Regions from separate parts of the Homo sapiens genome. Here region 2 is linked to region 1. A link means that fine-mapping ties the variant in region 1 to the expression of a gene that starts in the linked region. Tissue or cell type: whole blood. Region 1 holds a variant in brackets; the other region holds the start of a gene. All regions are shown on one strand. Distances are from middle to middle.

Evidence for each region. PIP is the estimated chance that this variant, and not a neighbour inherited with it, causes the effect.
Region 2: it holds the start of MED15, and the variant in region 1 is fine-mapped to the expression of MED15 in whole blood (TOPMed, PIP 0.92).

Annotation. Positions count from the first base shown.
Region 1 is chr22:20,528,638-20,531,137 of GRCh38, reverse strand. All of the region lies in intron 1 of MED15 (mediator complex subunit 15), which reads right to left. Among named protein-coding and RNA genes, the nearest start is that of MED15, 22 kb to the right of the region's middle. RefSeq lists an enhancer at 1-978. The variant G/A (reference allele first, on the strand shown) is at 1,188.
Region 2 is chr22:20,506,437-20,509,093 of GRCh38, reverse strand. MED15 (mediator complex subunit 15) reads right to left here and starts at 1,484. Exons shown (of 18, transcript NM_001003891.3): 1 at 1,348-1,484. The coding sequence starts at 1,415. RefSeq lists an enhancer at 1,392-1,501.

The sequences.
Region 1 (2,500 bases):
AGGGAGGCCTGAGGCAAGCTGCCCCGGTCTGCCCTCAACCCATCTGGCAGCGCCTCCCTATCCTTCCTTTGCACAAAGGGTGGGGACAGTGCCGACCTCACGGGTAGCCCTGAGGATGATAGTAGTTAATATTATAAGGCACTGGACATACAGGAAGTGCTAGGTATGCGTTAAAGAAATAAGTCAGGCAACAACCTGCCCAAATGTGCAATAGGATGCATCCCAAAACACCTCCGCCATGTGTTGAGGTTATTGTTGCCCCCTCCTCAGCAGACGATGGCCCAATGAGCATGTGCAGCTCCCTCAGGCAGAGCCACCCTCCCATTGGAGCTCTGAGTCACCTGCAGTGTACCCTGAGGCCAGCTCCACCGCCCGCAAGAAGGACACTCACACAGGCATGTTGATGAGGCATGAACTGGCCTCCCCACCCCAACTCCCGCTCTGCTCTGCTCCACGCCCTGACTCTTCCTTCCACAACCGCCCTGGTTCCCACCAAGGACCCTCTCCCCTCTCAGTGAGGCCTCTCCCCTGACCCCACCCTCTTTACCACTGCTCCCCCTGCCACACTGCCAGGCCCCCTTCCCTGGTCCAACTGCTTTCCCATTGCTGAATGAGGGCATGAATTCCCAGGACAGCCAGCTTCTCTGTCCTCTGCTGGTGTCTAAAGCAGGAAGGTGCGTTCCTCCCTGGGGCACAGATTCACCCTCCTGACCTCAGGGGGGCAGGATGATTCCTCTCAGCCGATTTATGTTCTGCTCGAAGGAAACTTCTGTGAGTTTCTTCTAATTTTCTAATTTTGAGAAACACAACATCTATCAATCAAGTGAACTCTCATAGGGCAGAATAAATTTTTGGCAGCTCCACTTCACCCCACCCAAGAAGCCTCCCAGTAAATTGCTGCCTGTGTGTGCAGCCTGCTTGCCCACCTGGGACAGGAGCCCACAGCTTGTATGTGGGACCCTTTACCCTATGTGTTTAAAAACCTAAATCACAGAGGACCACAAGACAACAGAAGGAGAGTTATACAATATCAGGATGATGGTTTCCTAAGCATGTCACCAGAAGCAGACACTATAAAGGAAAAAAGATTTTCCCATATTAAAAAAAAGATTTGGACTAGGTGTGGTGGTTCACGCCTGTAATCCCAGCACTCTGGGAGGCGGAGGTAGGTGGATCACTTGAGGTCA[G/A]GAGTTCGAGACCAGCCTGGCCAACATGGTGAAACGTCTCTACTAAAAATACAAAAATTAGCTGAGCACAGTGGCTCACGCCTGTAATCCCAGCACTTTGGGAGGCCAAGGCAGGTGGATCACCTGAGGTCCGGAGTTCGAGACCAGACTGGCCAACATGGTGAAACCCCATCCCTACTAAAAATACAAAAGGGCAAGGTGGTGGGCGCTGCAATCCCAGCTACTCGGGAGGCTGAGGTAGGAGGATGGCTTGAACCCGGGAGGCAAAGGTTGCAATGAGCCAAGATCCCACCACTGCACTCCAGCCTGAGCAACAAGAGTGAAACTCTGTCTCAAAAATAAAAAATAAAAATACAAAAATTAGCCAGGCATGGTGGCGTGCATTATAATCCCAGTTACTCGGGAGGCCGAGGCAGGAGAATCACTTGAACCTGGGAGGTGAAGGTTGCAGTGAGCCAAGATCAAGCCATTGCACTCCAGCCTGGGTGACAAGAGTAAAACTCTGTCTCAAAAAAATATATACGTAAATATAAAAATTAGCTGGGCATGGTGGTGTGCGGCCATAATCCCAGCTACTTGGGAAGCTGAGGCAAGAGAATCGCTTGAACCAGGGAGGTGGAGGTTGCAGTGAGCCAAGGTAGCACCACTGCACTCCAGCCTGGGTAACAGAGTGAGACTCTGTCTCTAAATAAATAAATAAATAACAGATATGAACCTCCAAGTTGAAATGAGGAACAAAGCCTGCACATTTAATTCCCTTCCATCTTAAAACCTGACTAAAACCACAGAAAAAAAAACCAGGAAGAATGGAAATGGTGGCCTCAACAGCCTTTTAGAAGCTGGAAAGCTGATGGCCCAGTGGTAACGTACACAGCAAGAGGACCAAGAAACCAGAGTCCTAAGTAACAGTGAGGAGGGGGTGCGCCCACCCAGTGACAGCCCTAGGTCTTTGCCAGGTTGAGGCCAGGCTGCACCAAGTGCTCTGGGACAGAGGGTGAAAGATATCCCTGCATCCCTCACTCCCCAACTTTACACTGTGGGTAGCTACTCCAGCACCAGGTGACCACAGGAGGTTTACTCTCTGGAAAAGCATGAAACGGATAGTCACTGGACTAGGGGGCCAACCCACCCAGTTGAAAAGGCACAGGTAGGACACTGAGAGAGGTGGGTTGTGTGGTCATCTGTGCTCTGGTCTAAGTGACTAGATCGATGCACGCTAACTGCCGAGACCCACTGGCCCATCAGCCTCCTCCATCGCAGTGAGCAGCATGCTGGCAGCCAGGTCTTCACCCACAGCCCAGTGTCTGGAAGAC
Region 2 (2,657 bases), 22 kb after region 1:
TCCTAACTCCTCAGCTTGGAATGGTGGCTATTCACACTCCTACTTGTCTTTCTAGGACTCAATTTATTCGTCACCTACTCACTAGACTGCCCCTGGTCTGCTCAAGTTAACCGCCGCTTCGCAAGAAACCCCTGCAGTATACACATTACAGACTGACAAGACTGCGCTGTGACGGTTCCTTTACCATCCCTCAGGAAAGGGGCTGTGTCTCAGGCAAATCTGTGGCGAGCACAACACGCCAATAAGCTCAGTTAAAAACTGTCAGGCCTCTGAGCCCAGGCCAGGCCATCGCATCCCCTGTGACTTGCACGTATACATCCAGATGGCCTGAAGTAACTGAAGATCCACAAAAGAAGTAAAAACAGCCGTAACTGATGACATTCCACCATTGTGATTTGTTCCTGCCCCACCCTAACTGATCAATGTACTTTGTAATCTCCCCCACCCTTAAGAAGGTTCTTTGTAATTCTCCCCACCCTTGAGAATGTACTTTGTGAGATCCATCCCTGCCCACCAGAGAACAATTGACTAATTTTCCATTACCTTCCCAAATCCTATAAAACGACCCCACCCCTATCTCCCTTCGCTGACTCTCTTTTCGGACTCAGCCCACCTGCACCCAGGTGAAATAAACAGCTTTATTGCTCACACAAAGCCTGTTTGGTGGTCTCTTCACACGGACGCGCATGAAAAAAACTGCTAACAGAAACAAGCAGTCGGTGGTGAGGGGCTAGAGTTCCTCTGAGCGGGGCCACTGACCCCAGCTCTTCACGCTCTCCTCCAGAAACGACGATCGCTTCCTGACAGCGGCTTCCTGCCATCCTTCGGCAAAGTCCACATTCCTTCGGGGGGTCACCCTCAGATCCTCCGTCCCACCGCCCACACCCCAAACAACTACCTTCCCAATCTCATCTTACATCCACCCTCCTCCCATCACTTTCTTTCACCGTTGATGCGCTTTTCTGGAAGAGAAACCATGAAGCACCCAGCCCTGCTAAACCCACTACAGCCGGCTGCTTCTCTCCCTTTCCCTATTCAGTGTGGTTCAAAAAGCGGGGGAAAGTCTGCACCCAAAGCACACAAATGACGAATGAGAAAGCTCAAGACGATGATTCATAAGCCAGGGCTCGTTGGTTTGCAGAGCTCGGCCCCAGGAAAGCAAACGAGCAGTCCATGTCGGGAACGGAGGGGACAGACGGGGGGGCCCGAGCCCTGGGACCCACGCAAGTCCCCGGCGCCTTCTGTCTCCCGGCGCCGTAGGTTTCTCACGGGTCCGGCCCTGGCCTCGCCCGCCACGCTAAGGAGGAAGGTCCCACAATCCAGCCCCCTGCCCCGACCACTACTCACATTTGACTGACCAGCTTCTGCCGGAAGGCGGTGCTCCGCCAGTCGGTCTCTTGCCCGGAAACGTCCATGCCTGTTCCCCAGCTCCCGCCGCCCGTATCCCGCTTGGCCGCCACCGCCGCCGCCTCAGTCACAGAGCCAGGCCCAAACCCGGAAGCCGTCCGCAGTGCCTCGGCCGAGCCGGAAGTGAAGGAGGGCTTGTGGGAAATGGAGTCTCGCGCACAGGCTTGTGGGAAATGAAGTTCCCCGCCGGGGACGAAGCGGTCTCGGTTCCGCCCGGCTGGGAGACACACGCCCCTCTTCCAGTGCAGCTGTCGGACACGGCAGGTGCTCCCGCAGCAGACCTGCGCCTGACCGCCTGCATTTTCTGCAACTCTTCAGTGTGCTGGCCTTATCTAGTCCCTGAGATCCAGACCCCTCCGGGATGCCAGGCCAAGCTGCCAGCTATCTATAGTAATGCTAGGGAGAGAGTGTTTATTTATCAAATATGTGTGGGTACCTACTGTGTGCCAGTGCAACGTGATCTGGGATCTGCTTTCATGCAACTGCCTGCTAGCGCCGCATCCGAAGAGCGACCAGATGGACTCTCATCACCGCTTCACTCTTCGATTTTTTGAATCTCACATCTCACAATGGCTGTATTTGGGGGTTGGGAATGTGAGGCCCCTAAACCACGTTAATTAATTTTTAGACATGGGCTTTCCCTTTTGACCAGCAGCCACGTCCCCTTCATGGAGAACTCAGCCTAGCTAGTTGCTGGAGGCCAGATGTCAAACGAATTTGATAGGTGAAGGTGAGCGAGCTGAAGGTGGGATGAGGGGTTATGGGGGCCTGAGAATGCTTTTAGGAATGTAAAAGTTCTGCCTCCTTGGAACTATGGGGCCTTTATCTGCTACCCTGGGGAGGGAGGTGACGTGAGGAAAATCTGGAGCCCAAGTGGTCAATAAGCACCAGGTGGACACCAACCAACATGGGCCTCAGGAGACTGTGGACTGGCACCTACTGAAGCCTAAGTGCCAGGCCCCTGCTAGGCACTGTACACCCCTTACACCCCTTGTTACTGTGCCCCAGACAGGAGGTTGAAGGTGGTAGAGAGTGGGTGGGAGAGGAGTGAGCACTCTCCCCAAAGAGGCCTCTCTTGCCAACAGAGTTTCATGTCTTGTGTTGATGTGAGAGCTGTTCATGTTTTCAAACGTTTTCTGCTCTAATACTCCCAAAATCGTTATTGTTTTTTTTGAGGGGGGGGGGATAGAATTTAGCCCTTGTTGGCCAGGCTGGAGTGCAGTGGTGCCATCTCGGCTCACTGCAACCTC